Homo sapiens: one gene and its partners. The protein of the gene in region 3 interacts with the protein of the main gene of each other region in a biochemical or structural test. Each region holds a gene or a part of one and is shown on either strand. Other genes may lie near its edges. The genes, in order: TCEA1, IWS1 and SUPT6H.

Region 1 (7,112 bases), on a different chromosome or scaffold from region 3:
CTACAGGTGTGCACCACCATGCCTGGCTAATTTTCGTATTTTTAGTAGAGATGGGATTTCAACGTATTGGCCAGGCTGGTCTTGAACTCCTGATCTCAGGTGATCTGCCCGTCCTGGCCTCCCAGAGTGCTGGGATTACAGATGTGAGCCACTGCGCCCAGCCTGAAAAAGTTAACTTTGAAGAGTAATAGTTGTCATCAGAATTGACAAATTTAAGTGCAAATTTAGATATCATTTAAAAAAATATTTTAACATGCTGCTGCTTTACCTGAATAATTTTGTTTTACTAAAACCATAGGTGTCACACTTAACTAAAAACAGCTTACCATTTATTGAGCTATTACTCTGAGCCAGGTATTCTGCTAAATACTTACCCACCTTATCCCATTTATTCCTCAGGCAACTTTGCAAGATGAGTATTATCCTCATTCTGAAAATGAGGATGCTAAGTATTTAGAATAGTCTTAAGCCAAATAGCTAGTGAATGGCCAAGTGAAGATGTGAATCTAAATCTGTTTTGCTCCAAAGCTAGTACTCCTCTCTTAAGCTACAGTGTCTCTCTAGAAGACCCTTGCATCTGCTCTTGAACCATGCATGGATACAATTAAGTGAATACAAAATCAGGAAGTAAGAGTATGAACTTGCTGTTTTGGGGCAGGTGTGTTTCCCTAGTTACCTAGATCAATATCCTGACCCTAGTTCTACCCAAGATGTTGTCCCACATGTGTACTTGATCTCAAGTGCACATGACCAAGCCACAGTGAACCACAGAAAGTAGTTCGAAATTTTTAGGTATTAGCTGTTTTCTGCTTAAGCTGTTTTCTTGTCACTTTGATTCGGTGTCAGTAACCAAGTCTGACTGCTAATGTGGGTTCAAATCCTGGCTTTTCTGAACTTTTCTGAACTTTAGCTGTGTGATTTTAGGCAAGTTCTTTGTCATCACTAAAATGTTTCTCGTCATGGTAAACTGGAGATAATTTAGTAAGGATTAAGTGAATATAAAATGCTTCTAGTGTAGGATTGTGGGCCTAAAGGATGTAATAAGGCCTAAAAAACAATCTGAGGTTGCCTTTCTTTGTAAAGGATTCATTTAGATTATAGAAGGAGGAGTGAGGCAAGGACATAAAGTTTTGAAGTTCATGGAGAGATTTTGTGGGTAGTGCTGAGGTTTATTTATTTATTTCATTGAAGGCTCAAGGTTGAGTGGAATTAAATTGCAGGGAGAGAAATTGAAATTAGATGTTAGAATTTCGTAGGAGCTGGGATACCTGAAATATTGATTTACATTTCCAAGTACCTCAGTTAAAATAACAACTGCAACAAAACTTTGATATCTATATCAGAGTTAGATTAATTAGCATAATTCAAAATTTAGAATGACTATACAATTTTTAATAACAGCTTTATCGAGAAATAGAATTAAATTCATTCTTAAAGTGTAGTTGACTCTTGAACAATGCAAGGGTTGTGGTGCTCACACTATCCCCCCTCCCTACCCGCATGCAGTCAAGTAGTATAACTTTTGTAGTAGTATAACTCATGCAGTCATGTCACTCAGGCTGGAGTGTGGTGGCATGATCTTGGCTCACTGCAACCTCCGCCTCCTGGGTTTAAGCAGCTCTCCCACCTCAGCTTCCCGAGTAGCTGGGACTACAAGTGCGTGCCACCACACCCAACTAATTTTGTATTTTTAGTAGAGATGGGATTTTACCATTTTTCTCAGGCTGGTCTCCACATCCTGACCTCAAGTGATTCACCTGCCTCGGCCTCCCAAATTGCTGGGATTACAGGCGTGAGCCACTGAGCCCAGCCTTTTTTGGGTATTTTTTATAGAGATGGGGTTTCACCATATTGCCCAGGCTGATCTAGAACTCCTGAACTCAAGTGATCTGCCTGCCTTGGCCTCCCAAAATGTTGGGATTATAGGCACTTAGCCTGGGTGACAGAGCGAGACAATGTCTCAAAAAAGAAAAGAAAAGAAATAAAGGAGAGAAAATATGTTTACTGTTCATGAAGTGGAAATGTGTCGTCGTAAAGGTCTTCATCCTCTTTGTCTTCACATTGAATAAGCTGAGGAGAAAGGAAGAGTTGGTTTTGTCATCTAGGGTTGCAGAGGTGAAAGAAAATTCTCAGGTGAATCTGTGCAGTTTAAACCCATGTTATTTGAGGGTCAACTGTTAATTCAGTGGCTTTTAGTGTATTTACGGGTTTGTGCAACTATTACTACTGTATAATTTTAGAACATTTTCATCACTCCAAAAAGAAACCCTGTACCTATTAAGCAGTCACTCCTCATTCAGCCCTCATTTGCCCCCACCAATTTCTCACACGCCTCTGACAGCCACTAATATACTTTCTGTCTGTGTGTTTGCCAAATCTGGAAATTTTCTGTCAGTGAAATTATACAGTATGTGGTCTTTTGTAACTGGCCTCTTTTGCTTAGTATAGTCTTTTTTTTTTTTTTTTTTTTTTGAGACGGAGTCTCATCTTGCTCTGTCGCTCAGGCTGGAGTGCAGTGGCGCGATCTCGGCTCACTGCAACCTCCGCCTCCCAGGTTCAAGCAGTTCTCCTGTCTCAGCCTCCCGAGTAGCTGGGACTATAGGCGCGCACCACCACACCCGGCTAATTTTTGTATTTTTAGTAGAGATGGGGTTTCACCATATTGGCCAGGCCGGTCTCAAACTCCTGACCTCATAATCCGCCTGTCTTGGCCTCCCAAAGTGCTGGGATTTCCACGCGTGAGCCACACCGCCTGGCCTGATTTTTGTATTTTTAGTAGAGACAGGGTTTCACCATGTCGGCCAAGCTGGTCTAGAACTCCTGATCTCAGGTGATCTACCCGCTTCAGCCTCCCAAAGTGCTGGGATTACAGATGTGAGCCACTGCACCCAACCACGATTTGCTTATTCATTCATCATTTGGTGGACATTTGGGCTGTTTCAGCTTTTTGGCTGTTGTGAATAATACTGTTAAAAACATTGCTGTACAAGTGTCTCGCTCTGTCACCCCGGCTGGAGTGCAGTGGTGTGATGGCTCACTGTAAGCTCCGCCTCCCGGGTTCCCACCATTCTCCTGCCTCAGCCTCCCGAGTAGCTGGGGCTACAGGCACCCAGCACCATGCCCGGCTATTGTATTTTTAGTAGAGACTGGGTTTCACTGTATTAGCCAGGATGGTCTCGATCTCCTGACTTCATGATCTGCCCGCCTCGGCCTCCTAAAGTGCCGGGATTACAGGCGTGAGCCACCGCGCCTGGCGACATATGTTTTCATTTCTGTTGGGTGTATACCTCGGAGAATAATTACTGGGTCATATAGTAACTATGTTTAACCTTTTGAGGAACTGCCAGACCTTTCCAGTGTGGCTGCACCATTTTACATTCCAACTAGCAGTGTGTGAGGATTCCAGTTTCACCTCATTTTCACCAATATCATTTGTCTTGATTATAGCCTTCCTAGTGGGTGTAAAGTGGTATTTCATTGTGGGTTTGATTTGCATGTCCCTTGTGATTAACAATGTTGAGCATCTTTTCATTGCTTTGTGGCCATTTGCATATCTTCTATGGAGAAATAAATGTCTATTCAGATCCTTTGCCCATTTTTTAGAAAAGAGTCAGGGTCTGGCTATGTTGCCCAGGCTGGAGTACAAATTGGATTAGTCCATTTTTAAATTGGGTTGTCTTTTTATTATTGAGTTGTAAGAGTTCTTTATATTCTGAATACTAGAACCTTGTTAGATATGCTGATACTGTCTCCCATTCTGTGGGTTGTCTGTCTGCTCTTGGTTGTGGCCTTTGAAGTATAAAATATTCTAATTTTGATGAAGATGAATTTATATATATTTTTCTTTTGTTGCTTGTGCTTTTGGTGTAGTTTAACTGCAAATTTGAGATGACATAGTAATATCATAAGTCCTAGCTTTATAGTGATGTTATTGAGCTACAACTCAAATATCTATAATTCATTGTTTAAGAAAATAGATAATGGGCCAGGCATGGTGGGTCACACCTGTAATCCCAGCACTTTGGGAGGCTGAGGTGGGCAGATCACGAGGTCAGGAGTTCAAGACCAGCCTGGCTAACATAGTGAAACCCCATCTCTACTGAAAATACAAAAATTAGTTGGGCGTGGTGGTGGGCGCCTGTAGTCCCAGCTGCTTGGGAGGCTGAGGCAGGATAATCGCTTGAACCCAGGAGGTAGAGGTTGCAGCGAACTGAGATCACGCCACTGCACTCCAGCCTGGGCGACACAGTGAGACTGTCTCAAAAAAAAAAAAATGGATAATATCTTAATTCTTTAACCTTGAAATCTTATAATAATGCCTATGAAGAAGACATTATTATAGAAGAAGTAACTGTTTTACTTGATTGAGCTTAAATATGATCACTGAAAATGCTGGCTTATGGCCCCTGGAGATTATTGTTATGGTAGAAATAAGTAATTATTTGTATATTTTTGTACTCCTCATCAACCATGCTATGTGTCAGACCCTCTATTTTGATACTTTATCTGTGTAATGTTGCCTCATTTGGCTGTTTTAACTACTCAAGGTTGGTGTGTTATGCTCACCTACGTATAAAGAAGCTGAAGCTTGAAAAGGACAAATAACATTACCCAGATCTTGTAGTTAGCAAATGTCAGAGCATGGATTTGAATCTAAATCTGTCATATATGTACACCATATTCTTAACTATAAATCCCTATTACTCCCTCCTTTTTACATCTCCTTGAGGAGAGGGATGTTCGTATCCTACATGGTCTTGAGTATACTGAGCACATAGTACAAGTATCATGGTTTATAAAATCACTTGTTTTCTATTACCAGATAGGAGCACCAACAATGTAATAAAATAGTGTGATAGCTGTAGTTTATCTTTCAGCCAGTAGTGTGAACTAAATTTGGCTCTGGAAATTAAAGAAGAGTCTTTCTTTCTCTTGCATCATCTGTAGGAGATGCTACAATCTCATAGACTTGGACATGTATTCTTTTCTTTTCTTTTTTTTTAAATAGAGGTGGGATCTCATTCTGTTATCCAGGCTGGTCTCGAACCCCTGGGCTCAAGTGATCCTCCTGCCTTAGGCCTCCCAGAGTGCTGGGATTACAGGCTGAGCCATTGTGCCTGGCCTAGGCTTGACATTTAGAGCTAGGTGATGCTTGGGGAAGGCTAAAATACAGCTTCTTGTTTGGTGATACTAGTCATCTGAATTCACAAAGGAGTGCTGCCACTGGCGCACTGCTGGGGAAAGGGCAGCAGTATAAGGGTCAGGCGACTAGTTCATGACCTTACTACCCGTCAGTATGACCTTGGGCAAGTCACTTTTCTTTTCTGGGTTTAAGTTTCTTTTTTTTGTGTGTAGTTAAGGGTTTGAAATAGATGATTAAAGATTTCTGTTTGTTTTAAAATTCCCTGATGTCAGAAAGGGTTTCAGTCTTGCTCACTGCTGTATCCCCAGTACAGTAGAGCTTGGTACATTTGACATTACTGGAGTAGATCTTACCTTTTCTAGTTAGTAATCATAGAACCTTGTGCAAGTTTCTTGACATATTTCCTCATCTGTAAAATGGAGATAATACCTGCTTCTATAGGGTTTATGGTGAAGGTGGAATTAAATCTATGTGAAGTATTTAACAATGCCAAGCACATAGCAGCACTCAAAGTTTGTTGTCACCGAATTAATGTATGATTATCTGTTTTGCATTTCACTCATTCAGATCATCATAGTTATTTCTTTTTGTTTGTCTGTTTTTTGTTTTTTTTTTTTTTTTTTTTTTGAGATGGAGTTTTGCTCTATCGTCCAGGTTGGAGTGCAGTGGCACGATCTCGGCTCACTGCAACCTCCGCCTCCTGGGTTCAAGTGATTCTCCTGCCTCAGCCTCCTGAGTAGCTGTGGGATTACAGGTGCCCGCCACCACGCCCCGCTAATTTTTGTATTTTTAGTAGAGATGGAGTTTCACCATGTTGGCCAGGCTGGTCTCGAACTCCTGAGCTCAGGTTGATCCTCCCACCTCGGTCTCCCAAAGTGCTAGGATTACAGGTGTGAGCCACATGCATAAGCCACCGTGCCCAGCCCATAGTTATTTCTTAAAGACCCTTCAGTGAAATATTTATTTGAATTAGTTGGAACACAGTGCAGTTTTCAGAAAGGTCATAGTTTTATTCCGTGAGTGTTACTTTTAGCTTTTTATTCCAACCATGGCCTCACCAGAGAGCTGAGTAGAAAAGGAAAGTAACAAAATTAATGCAAATATATTGCCTCTACTTGGAAAACAATTTAAACTGTATGTCTCATTGCTGATATGTTGGAAGAATCAACTTAATACTTAGGAAACCCTGCTTTTTAAGGAACTTCTAGAAGTGTGATTCTTTACCCTTATTAAGAGATTCTTGGTCAGAAGTGGATCAGAAATCCTGGAAATGTGGATAGAAGAAAAATGTCAATGGTAAATGGAGAATACAGGCCCACAATCTTTTTTTTTTTTTTTTTTTTTTGTCGTCGTCGTTTTTTAATTTTTATTTTAGAAATGGAGTCTCACTCTGTCCACACAGGCTAGACTGCCGTGGCACGATCATGGTTCATGTAATCTCAAGCTTCTGGGCTCGAGCAGTCCTCCCGCCTCAGCTTCTGGAGTAGCTAGGACTACAGGCACTATGGCCAGCTAATTTTTTATCTTTATTTTTTGTAGAGAGGGGGTCATGCTGTGTTGTCCAGACTTCTAGAGTTTGTTAATCAAAACCCTTAGGGTCTGATATATTTGGTAATTCCAGATTTTTCAGATTTGATAAAGATAATTTGGTATATACATCATATATTACATAATACCCCCAGCAGGATTTGGGCACTTCAGCAACCAGACATTAACATTTCTTTTTTTTGTTTTGTTTTTTGTTTTTTTGAGACGGAGTCTCGCTCTGTCGCCCAGGCTGGAGTGCAGTGGCGCGATCTCGGCTCACTGCAACCTCCACTTCCTGGGTTCAAGCAGCTCTCTGCCTCAGTCTCCTGAGTAGCTGGGATTACAGGCACCCGCCACCACGCCCAGCTAATTTTTGTATTTTTAGTAGAGACAGGGTTTCACTATCTTGGTTAGGGTGGTCTTGAACTCCTGACCTCGTGAT
Region 2 (7,112 bases), on a different chromosome or scaffold from region 3:
ACTTTAGGTTTCTCTTGGCTTAGTAATTCTTTGCTACTTTGTTCCTAGATAATGAGCAGATTTCTATATATTTTTGTCTAGCTTTTCTAGTTGTGCTTGGCAGAGGGGTTAGTCCAAATCACCTAGAATGCCACTGTGAAAATCGGAAGTTCCCTAATTATTGTGAATCTTGCCCTTTAGCATTATAAAGTGACTTTCTTTGTCTCAAAGTGTCCCTTCCCCCTTAATTCAATTTTGCCCATTAGCTTCCTTTTATGTCTTTGTATATACGCTTTCATTTTACTTCCTGAATCCCTCTTCTAGATTTTTATCTTGAATACATCATAATTGTTTATTCCTACTTATTAGAATCATCTATAATGGTATCACTGCCATAAAAACACCAAAAAAAAGCACAATCAAGGAGGAAATATTTCCATCTTATACTTACTGTAAATTCTTCTTCCTCTTCATCACCAGATTCTCCAAATATGTCTGCAATAAGATTTCTAGAAAGTAGACAAATGTAAAAACATTCATTTGCTTTATCCTCATTTGCATAGGAACCATTTTTTAAAAAATAGAATTTATGTACAGTAAAATGTGCAGATCTTCAGTGTTCAGTTCAATGAGTTTTAACAAATATATACACTCATGTAACCAGCACCCTATACACTCATGTAGCCTCCCCAGAAAGTCCTCTCATGGCCCCTTCTAGCTGGTCCCCAATATCAACATCCTAGAAACAACTGCCACCTTGACTTCCAACACCACAGATAAATTTTGCCTACTGAACTTCATGTAAATGGAATCATATATGTCCTCTTTGCTTTCTTTCACTTAACATGTTAATTCTGAGATGAATTCTGAGATTCACCCACATTGTAGTGTGTTCAGTTCAGGAACTAAAATACTAAATCCCCAAAGACATGCAATTAGGCAGGACATATTGTATTATAACACAGACCCCTCTCTACTGCCTAATTAAGAACCCCTGAAAACTCATGTTATACTGTCACTTACTCTTCTTCATTGCCTGACTCACTGTCACTCCCAAACAGATCCTTCTCTTCATTTTTCTTATCAGACAATTCTTTCCCAGCTTCTTCCTCACTGTCAGATGCTATGGTCTTCTCTCTTTTGCCTGACTTGTCTGATACAGCATCACTGTCAGAGTCATCTGCATCAGAGACAACACGACTCTTCTTTGCTGCTGTTGAAAAAGAAAATCATCATTAATTTTATTTTATCACAGCCATTGTATTACTAAGCATAACAGGTGCTTTAAGATGGCAGTATACAGCAAAAATAAATAAATAAATAAATAAATAAATAAATAAATAAAATAAAATCAGAGGGCCTCCTGACACATGGTTTAGAATTTTTAAAATAACTAAATGGCTCATTCAGAGTCATCTTACAAATTATCTGTTATTTTGCTTAAGAAAAACTGGCCAAAAGATGAAGAAAGATATCATCAATATAAAAGCAGCCACCTTTCCTTTTGGGAAATCGAGAAAATTAAAACTAGATTGATGGGCAAAACTGGCATCCTTTCTATGTTGCCTAGTAGTAACTGAACTAAAAAGGACTACATATTTCTTTCTAGGAATAGTCTCCATGTTCCTCTATCATTGCTGGTCAGTTTGAAATTTCTCATCTCCCTTAACAAATTGACAGCATGTCTGGTACCTTTTCCTTCTCCTATAAGAACTGTGAGGTTATAATGAAATATGTCTTTTCCAAAAAAGATAAGTTTCATAAAAAAGTAGACAAGTAATACTATCTGTGCAAATGGAGTCTTAGATAGCAGAGACTGAAACACTCTGGAGAGAGATGGTGTCTCTAAATAGAATCCTCTCAAAGCTTCCCTGTATCTGAATATTCAACAATGTTTAACAAATGAAGAGATGTACCTGTGGGAGCTGTTACTGTTTGGATGGGATCTAGTGAACTAAGTGTCAAAGAGACCCACAGCTAACAATTAATACAGTTAGGGGTTTTTATGTAAACGTATTTCTTTGAAACATTACCTCTTCCAGTTTTAAAAAAAAAAAACAGTATTTTATATTCCTATTGACATGTGGTTTATCACTTTGAGGCAGTCAGAGATTAATATGTGCTAATAGAACTCCAAGGAAACTTACTATTAAGCTTAGCTAATGATAACCAGGGGAAATGAGTGTCCTACTGATATTTTAGAATATTAAGCTGAATAACAGAACACAGATCTGACATACCAAGAGGATACAATGTTCCACAGTTACAAGCTTAGACAATGAATAAAGCCATTGATAAACAGCCCAAGGTAACTCCTTACATGCTTTCTCTTCATCTTCACTATCAGAAAGCACAGCAGCTTTTCTCTTCGCTACTTTCTCCTCCTCACCCTCTTTTTCATCTTCATCACTGTCCATTTTTTGCTTTTTGTGTTCTTCCTCCTCACTATCAGAACTGTGAAACTTTTTTCTGTCCATATGGCTGTCTGAATGGAAGGAGTCATTCTGCATTTCTGTATCCTCTCCCTTATTCTCCCTGTCGCTGTCATCATCTGACTCTGGCTTCTGTTTGTGTCTGGACGCATCCTCAGTTTCTGAGTCACTGGCAGGCCCCTTCTGAGGCCCCTCACTCTCAGAGTCACTGACTCGGGGTTTGGGTAGCTCCTCATTTTCCGAATCACTGGCCTGGTTCCTTGGGGGATCCTCACTTTCCGAATCACTGATTCGGGGTTTGGGAAGCTCTTCATTTTCTGAGTCACTGGCCTGGTGCCTCGGAGGGTCCTCACTTTCTGAGTCACTGATACGAGGTTTGGGAAGCTCCTCATTTTCAGAGTCACTGGCCTGGTGCCTTGGGGGTTCCTCACTTTCTGAATCACTGACCTGAGGTTTAGGAAGCTCCTCACTTTCAGAATCACTCATTCGAGGTTTGGGAGGCTCCTCATTTTCGGAGTCACTGGCTTGGTGCCTTGGGGGTTCCTCACTCTCAGAGTCACTGATTTGAGGTTTTAGAGCATCTTCTGTTTCAGAGTCACTAGCAGGACTCTTCTGGAGCTCCTCAATCTCAGAATCACTGGCGGGATGCTTCCCAACATCTTCGTTTTCTGAGTCACTTGCATGCCCATTAAGAAGTTCCTCATTTTCAGAGTCACTACCAGGTAATTTCCTGGTCTCTTCACTCTCAGAGTCGCTCCCATGCTGATTGACATCCTCATTTTCAGAATCGCTTGCAGGAGGCTCTGCACGTTCCTCAGATTCAGAGTCGCTGTCCTTTTGCCTGTGAAGCTCCTCACTTTCAGAGTCACTAGCATTAAGATTTAAGGGCTCATCGTTCTCAGAGTCTGTCACATGATGTCCTTTGGGGAGGCCATCTTCTCGATCACTAGTTTCATTCTGAAAAATAAAGTGAGAAAAAATTAGGAAAGTGCAAAAAAAAAAAAACCATTAATAATAAAACATTAAATTTTTTCTGTGATTTTTTTAAAATACAGGATTATGTGCACCTAAATGGAGAATTCTTGTCCTATACCCATATAGAAACACCCCCACAGAAAGCCAATCAGTGAAATGGTTTTATTTGGATCCCCAAATGGGGAAATATAACCAGCCTTCATCAAAACAGATTTGTAAAGCATGCCCTCAGATTACTACAGAAAACTGACCGTGAAGAGCTAGATTTTTTCTTTTTTAAAAGGCGAATTTTCTCATACATACTTCTGTTTTGTAAAAATATAACTCTAGGCTGGACAAGGTGGCTCACACCTTTTGGGAGGCCGAGGTGGTGGATCACCTGAGGTCAGGAGTTCGAGACCAGCCCGGCCAACATGGTGAAACCCTGTCTCTATTAAAAATACAAAAATTAGCTGGGCGTGGTGGTGGACACCTGTAATCCCAGCTACTAGGGAGGCTGAGGCAGGAGAATCACTTGAACCTGGGAGGCGGAGGTTGCAGTGAGCTGAGATTGCACCATCGCACTCCAGCCTGGGTGACAGAGTGAGACTGTCAAAAATAAAAATAAATAAATAAAAATAAATAACTCTATTTTTCAAAGAAATACAAGCAAACATGTAACCAAGTTCTTTTACACAGGAACATTCTTGGGTTTTATAAGGTTAAGATTATTTAAGGGAAAAGAACTATAAAATTTAATTTTATTTAAAGGGTCAAATAACATATGGGCACCTTCTCCCAAGATAATTTAAGCAAACAAAGAAAGGAGAAGTTAACATTTCCTAAGTACCCACTAAGAGCCAATACCACAACAGGCTCTCTCCTGTTAGTTCATTTACTCCTCATAATGGTACTTCTCATGATAACAAAATTGAGGCTTACAGTAGTCACGGTCCTGTGTCTAGTAACCCTAGAAACAAGAAAGCTTAAGTTTTAGGGAGAACATGATTCATCTAACTATACCAACACATAATGTTACTTGAAATAATTACTCTGAAAACATGCCCTGGGGTACAAACTTGATATGTGCATATTATAGCTATGGCTTTAAAATGCAGAGAAAAATATACAAAATTAAACATGCCAAAATACTAACAAGTATTTTAGGATCCGGTGAATTTTTTCTCCCATCTGGTAGCTCAACTTTAAATAACATGGCAATAATATTCTAGCTTAAAAAGTGAAAGTATTTCCGTGTTTGAGTATACCCTCTTAAAAATTTACTGAGCCAAATATTTCTTGTTAGATATATGACTTAAGCTATGTGAACCTACCACAGACCAATTTTCAAGGACCAAAGAGCCTTTAATAATATATATGCCCAACATCATGCTATGAAACAGTTAAGTGACAAGATTATTCTTGTCAATGACAAGATAAATGGCTTGAAAATGTTCTCATAAAACCCAAACTTTTACTAACCCAAGTATGCTGTGTCTACAAATTCAAAAAGAATATGAAAAATTATAAAATAGCCTACAAAGCCAATGTTTGAAGAGTTTTTAAATATTTTATCACCATTATGACAGCACAGCATTGCAAAGAGTCATTGCTATACACAGTCACTGAAATATAGCACATTCAGGTAAGTTTCCAAAATCATACACTTTTCAAAATTCCTAAATACATTTTTCTTGAGTTCTCACTGGGCACTCAACACAGTACTGTATTAGATTCCTTGTCAGTCACAAGCTCTATTATCCCACTGAAACAGGCACTTATCTATTAAAACGGTATTAGGACTTGAGAGATATCATAGAATCTTACAATTACCGTACAATAGTCTGTATGTTGCCTAAAGTTTACTTTAGCCACACTTCATAATTTAAAAGAATGCAGATGGAAAATTTAACTATCTAGATTGTAAGCTCTAGGAAGGCAGACATATTTTGGTTTGTTTTCCTGAGGTATCCTCAGAGTGCAGAATGGTCTCCAGAACATACACACACTAGGTAGAGTTCGAGCATTCCTAATCTGAAAATTCAGACAACTCCAAAATCTGAAACTTCTTGAGCACTGACATGACACCACAAGTGGAAAATTCCACACATAAGCACCCAACACAAACTTTGTTTCATGTGAAAAATTATTTAAAATAATGTGTAAAATTACCTTCCAGCTATGTATATAAGACACATGAATTTCGTGTTTAGACTTGGGTTCCATCGCCAAAATAGCTCACTCTGTATAAGTAAATATTCCAAAACTCGAAAAAATTCTAAATCCAAAACACTTCTGATTTGAAGCATTTTGGATAAGGGATACTCAACGTGTATTTGTTAAATGAGTAATAAAGGCCTTAAGTGGGAATAACATAAGGTGAGGAAAAATTAATCCAACAAGAATGTATTTCATGTCTACTACGTGCAAGACACCAAGAATCCAGGCGGAGTATGTCACAGGGCCTGACCTTAAGAGCTGCTGTCTGATGAGGAGCCAGCCAAGCATACTGTAACAGTATAGTGTGACATGCACTATTCACAAAGTATGTATATGATATTTCAAAAGTGTACTGGAAGTGCATCTATATGAAACTGAGCTGCAAAAAAAAGGTGTGCAGACAACAGGCATGTTTGCATGCAGTTTGTGATGGCTGAGTTAAGACGGGAGGGTGGGGAGAGGCATACAGTACCAGCAGAGGCAATTAAAGCAGGAGGCAAAAAGGAAAATTATAATTGGCTTTTGGAATGCTCTCCATGATATATCCATCACATAACTCTAACACCATTTCTATGTGTGACTTGATTTATTTTAGTTGAAACTACAGAAATCATCTCTAGCTAAGTCCAGAAAAAAAGAACAATCTTCTCAGGATCAAAGTCAGTTGAATGACTAAACACTTGGGAAGGTTAAGTACCAACGCAGCACAGAGAGCTTAGAAAAGGGAACTCAAGGATCATTTTACTAGAGTACCATCAGTAACATGACTCAGCTATACCCTGTCTAGAACCTAAATTATAAATCCCCAAGAGAGATGACTTAACTGGCCAAGGCAATATTAGAAACTGTGACTCAATCAGTTACAGCTGGATCGGGGCACAGCACTGGGAGTCACTCCCAAAGAAGTGAGAGACACTGGGCAGTCATCCAAAACTCACCCGCTACACTCTACCCCAGATTTCCTGACACATGGTGTAGCATTCCAAAACAAACCCTTACAAGGACACTGCATAAGACAATGATTGTAAAATTTAGGAATCCTCATGAATTTTTTATGAGTTTCACGAAAACATAGCATTATGTATGGCATGACAGGGCAAAAAAGGGGAGAAATCACTACAGTAAAGAAGTACTAGTTTAATAGACTCGAGCTAAAGAATACACTTAGACAACACCACCACAGAATTTGGGACGAGTATGCTGGAAATTATACAGTTAAGCTTAAAAGTTATCAAAACAATATCCAAAGTTTTTAGAGTGGTTTTGGCAATTAAATTGCAAGCTTAAAAAAAATCCAAAAGACAGTTTTTTAAAAGTCAGATGAGTACAACAAACCAACAGTTGAAACTGACATTTAATGTCATTTCTAAAATAATGTAACACATTTCCTAGTTGTAATGGTAAAAGAAATTGAGCACTCAGAAGGTCCTTAGATGCTTTAGAAACATCTATAATGCCGCCGGGCGCAGTGGCTCACGCCTGTAATCCCAGCACTTTGGGAGGCCGAGGTGGGCAGATCACGAGGTC
Region 3 (7,112 bases):
ACAGGCGTGAGCCACCACACCTAGCCATCTTTTTCTTATGACAGTATCACTCTTTTGCCTAGGCTGAAGTGTAGTGGTGCAATCAGGGTTCACTGCAGCCTCAACCTCCCAGGCTCGAGTGATCCTTCCACCTTGGCCTCTCGAGTAGCTGGGACTATAAGCGCACGCCCCCAAGTCTGGGTAATCTTTTTTTTTTTTTTTTTTGAGACAGAGTCTTGCTCTGTTGCCCAGGCTGGAGTGCAGTGGCACAATCTTGGCTCACTGCAAGCTCTGCCTCCCGGGTTCACGCCATTCTCCTGCCTCTGCCTCCCGAGTAGCTGGGACTACAAGCGCCCGCCACCATGCCCAGCTAATTTTTTGTATTTTTAGTAGAGATGGGGTTTCACTGTGTTAGCCAGGATGGCCTCGATCTCCTGACCTCGTGATCCACCTACCTTGGCCTCCCAAAGTGCTGGGATTATAGGCGTGAGCCACTGCACCCGGTTAAGCCTGGCTAATTTTATTTTGTAGAGATAGGGTTTTGCCATGTTGCTCAGGTTGGTCTTGAACTCCTGGGCAAGCACTCCACCTGCCTCGGCCCCTGAAAGTGCTGGGATTACTGGTGTGACTGTGCCCCATCCTCTTTTATGTTTATCCAACTTAGATCCCTTTAGCTGCAACTGAGGCCCCTCCCTTTTGTGTTTTTTTTTGAGATAGGAGTCTCACCACCACACCCTGCTAATCCTTATATTTTTAGTAGAGATGGGGTTTCATCATGTTGGTCAGGCTGGTCTGGAACTCCTGACCTCAGGTGATCCAACTGCCTCAGCCTCCCAAAGTACTGGGATTACAGGCATGAGCCACTGTGCCCGGCCTGGCCCCTCCCCACTTTTTTTTTTTTTTTGAGACAGAGTCTCGCTGTCGCCCAGGCTGGAGTACAGTGGTGCAATCTCGGCTCACTGCAGGCTCCGCCTCCCGGGTTCACACCATTCTCCTGCCTCAGCCTCCCGAGTAGCTGGGACTACAGGCGCCCACCACCATGCCTGGCTAATTTTTTGTATTGTTTAGTAGAGACAGGGTTTCACCGTGTTAGCCAGGATGGTCTCGATCTCCTGACCTCATGATCCGCCCGCCTCAGCCTCCCAAAGTGCTGGGATTACAGGAGTGAGCCACCGCGCCCGGCCAGCCCCTCCCTTTTTTTAAAAAAGGAGATGGGGTCTTGCTATGTTGCCCAGGCTGGCCTCGAACTCCTGGGCTCAAGAAATCCTCCCAAATTAGCCTCTGATGTAGCTGGCACTATACGTACGTGCCACCATGCCTGTCTGCCATTTTGTTTTGACCCAGCGACCATAAGAAGTTTCTTTTTTTTTTTTTTTGAGACGGAGTCTCGCTCTTTCGCCCAGGCTGGAGTGCAATGCTGCTATCTTGGCTCACTGCAAGCTCCATCTCCTGGGTTCACGCCATTCTCCTGTCTCAGCCTCCTGAGTGGCTGGGACTACAGGTGGCCGCCACCGTGCCTGGCTAATTTTTTGTATTTTTAGTAGAGACGGGGTTTCACCGTGTTAGCCAGGATGGTCTCGATCTCCTGACCTCATGATCCGCCCGCCTCGGCCTCCCAAAGTGCTGGGATTACAGGCGTGAGCTACTGCGCCCGGCCGACCATAAGAAGTTTCTAAGTCAGCCTTTTTTTTTCCTTTTCTGAGATGAAGTCTCATTCTGTCACCCAGGCTGCAGTGCAGTGGTATGATCTCGGCTCACTGCAAACTCCGCCTCCTCGGTTCAAGTCATTCTCCTGCCTCAGCCTCTCGAGTAGCTAGGATTACAGGCGTATGCCACCACAACTGGCTAATTTTTGTATTTTTAGTAGAGACGGGGGTTCACCATCTTGGCCAGGCTGGTCTCGAACCCCTGATCTCAGATGAACCGCCCACCTTGGCCCCCAAAGTGCTAGGATTATAGGCGTGAGCCACCGTGCCCAGCTATGTCAGCCTTCTCAGAAGGGACTTCATGCTAAACCTGTGTGTTTCCCGTCCGTCTTCCTTCTTTGTGTACTTGTTTGGTGAGAGAATGATCTAGAACACCCTCATTTCTGATTCCCTTCTAGGCACCGAGATCATTCAACCAAGGAAATCCACTGAGCAGGATAATGCTGCAGCACACACCTCGCTTAGTTCAGGGAAATTGTCCTGCTGACAGAAGGGGCACTGCCACAGCCCTGTCTCATCATTGCGGATCGCCTGGTCATAGCTCTCACCCTGGGGACGCCTGTGGGCAATGCCAGTGACATTGCAGATGATGAGCTTTCCTGCAAGAAGGAAAAGAGGATGGGGAGCAGGCTCAGAGAATGTGGAGAGCACTTCTTTCCACCAGCCTTTCAGTGACAGAATATCTGACTTCCTTCCCATCCTTGAAGAGGGAACTCTTCCCGATTTTTATTTATTTATTTATTTTTGAGATGAAGTCTTGCTCTGTTGCCCAGGCTGCAGTGCAGTGGTGCTATCTTGGCTGACTGTAACCTCTGCCTCCCAGGTTCAAGGAATCCTCCTGCCTCAGCCTCCCGAGTAGCTGGGATTACAGGTGCCCACCACCACGCTCAGCTAATTTTTTATTTTTAGTGGAGATGGGGTTTCACCATGTTGCCCAGACTGGTCTCGAACTCCTGGCCTCAAGCAGTCTGCCTGCCCTGGCCTCCCAAAGTGCTGGGATTACAGGCATGAGCCACTGTGCCTGGCCGTTCCCCTGATTTGATGATAGGGGAAAATAAAGCCTATAAGAAGACTAACTGCATGAAGATTCCATAGCACACTGGAAGCACATTTGACCTTAAATTCAGTTTTGATTTCCAGTCCAGGACTCTTTAGTCTTTTAAAATGCTCTCCTGGCCTTCCCCATGTACAACACAAACCTGCCTCAATCTGTTGGAACTGCTGCTTGGTTTGAATGTACACAGTAAACACACCTCCTGCCCCCAATAAAAAAATGACCCCAGAATTTACCAATGTAGAAGGTCTCTGGTGTTTCTTTGGTTAACATATTGAAGATCTCCTCTGTGTTGGGAGAGCGGTAGGCTGTCCGGAGGTCCTTATATCGACAGCTCAGCTCTGCCCGGATGTCATAGAGTGTGATGTGTTTGTCACCATAGCCCTGGGGAAGAAGCCCATCAAGAAGAGCCTTGCAGCTGCCCCCCAACCTGAGCCTCAAGGAGTCCCGTGGAAGGGGCGGGCCTCTCCAGATGGGAGTAAGTTTCTGTCAGGGCTTCTTCTTTTCTTTCCATCAACATTTACTAAAGGTGGTTTTCAAACTTAGCCATGAAACACTGTAATCAAAATGCTTTATGGAACCCCAATGAGTCCACAGATAAATGCAAAGCTGTGCTGTTAGAAAGGAGGAAAGGGGGCCTAGACGGAAACTGTAGTACTGACATCCTCCCAACTCCCTCCTGCCCCTTGTAATTATGGTGGCAATCTCTGAGACTTCCCTGGCTCCTTAACAAGCAGACCAAAAACTTCCTTGAGGAGCCCAGTAGAGCAGGGCAGGGAGATGAGGATCAAGTCTGCCATACTAACAGTATCAGGCTTTCTCTGCACACTCACTGCCCAAGTCTCCTACCAACCTGGCCACTTGGGATGGGTTCTCCTGCCGGGCCTTCCATGCTGTCCCTTACCTGCCTCTCCAGCTCTTCTGCAAAGGCATCAAGGTCCAGGTCTTTCAGTCGCTCTGGGTTTTCCAAGATTTCTTCAAGGGCTCCTGCAGGATTGGCATCCTCGGCTGATTCATCGTATTCCAGGGCATCCACTGCCATCTTCCTAGCCCACTCATAAGTCTCAGGGTGGACACGGGAACCATCAAGGACTTCAATATATGAGTCAGTGCTGGAGGAAAGGCAGAAAAGGAACAGGATATAGAACGATAAGCTTCTAGTAACAACCCAAATGTCCACCAATGGGGAACTGGTTAAATAAATTAGGGCACCTCCATACAATGGAATACTATACAGCCATTAACAAGAATGAGGTAGATCTATGTGTGCTGACATGGAAAGATGGCCACAATATATTGATACGTGAAAAATGCACTGCAAAAACACTATGAACCATATGATCCCATTTTTGTAGTAAATGGGTAGTTAGTAAATGCATAGCAAAAATAAAATTTAGAAAAACTGTAGTATACATAAAATTGTTATGGTAGTTATCTCTGGGGGGTGGGATTATGGGGGACTTCCACTTTCTGCATAATATTTCTATATGTTGAATTTTATATGATGAACTTATATGAGTCTCATAATAAGATAAATCAAGAAAGGGGAAAAAAACCTTTGAAAATTTGCTGATAGCTATTTTCCCCCATAAAGCCTTCCCAGGCTGGTCTTGCCCGTGCACTCACATGGACCTATGTTATTCGTGGAGTGTTACAGCAAAGCTGAGTGGAAAATGAAGTTTTAGAACTTGAAGCCTATTTCCCCACTGATTTCCATTACTGAATGAGGAGCTATGTGCCCGTGGAAAAGATCCTCCAAAGACTGAGTTGATAACTTCTGGAGAGGAAGAGGTCAATAGTGAAGTCCAAAGTCCAAGTGAATAGAACTTTCTCTTAATAACATCATCTCAAAACATACCAAATCTCTCTCCCCCTTCCTTATCTCTTTATACCCCCAAACTCCTTTTTCATTGCCCCCGCTATTCCCACCCTTATCTGGCCACAACAAACCATAATAATAAAAAAGCAAGTTTGTGTTTACTGAACAAAATCTTGTGTTTTCCATGCTTAATTTATAAGCTAAGCTGGTACTTTTTATGTTTCTCTCACACGAAAAATGTTTCACATGATTGAACCGATCTTTTCCATAGGTCAGGGGCTCTTGACTGAATAAAGTTCCTTACCTTTTCTTTAAAACATTTCCTAAGTTAAAATGGCTTGTGGCCCTTTGATAGCCCTAACCCCTGAAACCCGAAAACAAAGCCCACAAGGGAATTCCTCCTGCCCCATCCAGGCAGAGGGCATCACCTGTCCCCCAGGGAGGCCGTGTCGATCTTGAGGAAGCCAGCACAATTCATGAAGACTTTGGGACCCATGTGGCACATGGTGACCAGCTGGGTCCGGCTCTCGAGCCGGGTGTTGTTCTGCTTCAGGATCTGGGGGAGAGAGCTGGACTGAGCCAGGGCAGTAAGCAGGCCCCACCTCCCCAGACTGTTCCAGTCTCTATTAAACCCTCATAACAAAAACTCTGTCCCACCCAGTATCTAGTTGAGCACTACAGCATGCTATCGACCACTCAAAATTAAAAAAAAAAAAAAAAAAGTTTTGCTTTAAATGGGAAAATAATAAACAAATAAATGATGTTATACCTACACCAAAGACCATATACAACTAATGTATGGCTTATAAGTTACAAGTTAACACTAGTTGGCCGGGCGCAGTGGCTCATGCCTGTAATCCCAGCACTTTGGGAGGCTGAGGCGGGTGGATCACCTGGGGTCAGGAGTTTGAGACCAGTCTGGCCAACATGGTGAAACCCCGTCTCTACTAAAAATACAAAAAATTAGCTGGGTGTGGTGGTGCAAGCAGCAGTGAAGGGCACAGCTTTGGCCAACTGGGTCTGAAGTCAGACTCTTTTGACTCTCACTAGCTGAGTGATTTTGGACAAGTCACTGACCTTGGTCCTCCCAATCTGTCAAATTATACTGACAAAGTATATATTCATATTCAATGAAATGGCAAGTTTTAAAATTTCTGAATTCACTCCAATCCTACCTTCAGGAGGTGGGTCCCTTTCCGAGGTCCCAGGCCACAAACATACTGGATCAAGGCCTGGCTGTAAGGGTGGGCAATGGCACGGTTGACATCGACCCCGACCTCATTGACTCGGTTGATAAATTCACAGTACAAGGCGTTGAGCAGCTCCTCTTTCACCACATGCTCCTGTGGACATTCAGCAGGCAGGAGTAAGGTTACTCTGCCTTTCCCTTCACCCGAGCCTGCCTGTCAAATCCTACTCACCTGCAAGGGGTGAAACTTGAGACACAGGATGTCTTCATCGGAACTGCACACCTGGGCAAATTCAATCAGAGGGTCCTGGATGCGCCGGGCCAGGGAGACGGCCTGTCTCAGCACTGGAGGATAATCCCGGAACTCTGCCTAGAGTCAAACGAGGGTCAGCAGGGCCTTAAAATCCCCTTAGCTACAACATCAAGAGGAAATCCAAACCATTCTGGTTTAAATCATTTTCTCTGCTTCTCTGGGATCTTTTTTCCTGAGACCGATTTAATTTCTGGGACTCCCAATCTGAACCGTAACTGCAAAACGGAGAACTTCTGCATGGATAAGTACACAGGTACAGTCCTGTGCCCCTGATAACTTTTGTTTCCCAATTTAATCTCTTTGGGATTAATAGCACTTGCCTGGGCAGGCCCTAAGGGTGAGGCTCCAGCATTACCTCTGACTTCTTGCTGTTCATATAGAGAATGGCCAACTCGTTGTCAACCAGCTCTACCCCAATAGATGACAGCTGCTGGCCCTGGTCCAGCTCATGTACAATGCGCTTCACATCTTCAATCAACATCTGGGCGTCCCTGGTGGGATGAGTGTTGGTCAATGAATATGTTTTCTTAGGGATGGACAGTCTCATGACTGCCTTGGGGGTGAAGAGGTAGGGGAGGAAAGGGCTTTGAAGAAAATGAGGTCAAACATCCCCAGGGACACTCCCTGCACAAGCACAAGCCCCATCTGTTATGGGCATATGCCAGACTCAATAATAAGGGATGAGTTGGGTCACGGCCTTAAACCAGGTGTGGTCTAATCCCTACCTACCTGTTCTCTCCTGCAACTGTCACTACATGAGGCTTCTTATTCAGGAGAAATTTCTTTAGCGTTTCAATGTCTTGAGCCTGGATTGAAAGAAAATTGAAGCTGAATGGCTCTGAGGATGTAAAGATTTCAGGAAATTCTGTCTCCCTATGTTGGAGATCTTGTAAGAACTGGAAGTCTTCAGAAGATATCTGGTCCAAGGTGCTACCAAGGAACTATTCCCACCTCTTCCTGAAAGTTGGCCAACCCTGCCTCTGCTTAATAATTCCACTGACTAGAACTGCGCTCCAGTGGTACCAGGTGCCACTGGCTAGGTCCCAAGGATG

Evidence for each region.
Region 1: the proteins of SUPT6H (region 3) and TCEA1 form a complex in vitro, tested with the Homo sapiens proteins (one study listed by BioGRID).
Region 2: the proteins of SUPT6H (region 3) and IWS1 form a complex in vitro, tested with the Homo sapiens proteins (one study listed by BioGRID).

What each region holds. Positions count from the first base shown.
Region 1 is NC_000008.11:54,012,339-54,019,450, reverse strand, and holds part of TCEA1 (transcription elongation factor A protein 1), read left to right. Parts: intron 1-7,112.
Region 2 is NC_000002.12:127,502,385-127,509,496, forward strand, and holds part of IWS1 (protein IWS1 homolog), read right to left. Parts: intron 3,369-7,112; coding exon 2,300-3,368; intron 1,193-2,299; coding exon 1,003-1,192; intron 489-1,002; coding exon 431-488; intron 1-430.
Region 3 is NC_000017.11:28,686,093-28,693,204, reverse strand, and holds part of SUPT6H (transcription elongation factor SPT6), read right to left. Parts: intron 6,867-7,112; coding exon 6,790-6,866; intron 6,552-6,789; coding exon 6,416-6,551; intron 6,118-6,415; coding exon 5,980-6,117; intron 5,902-5,979; coding exon 5,734-5,901; intron 5,115-5,733; coding exon 4,987-5,114; intron 4,517-4,986; coding exon of another isoform or gene 4,471-4,516; exon of another isoform or gene 4,366-4,470; intron 3,852-4,365; coding exon 3,644-3,851; intron 3,124-3,643; coding exon 2,976-3,123; intron 2,285-2,975; coding exon 2,142-2,284; intron 1-2,141.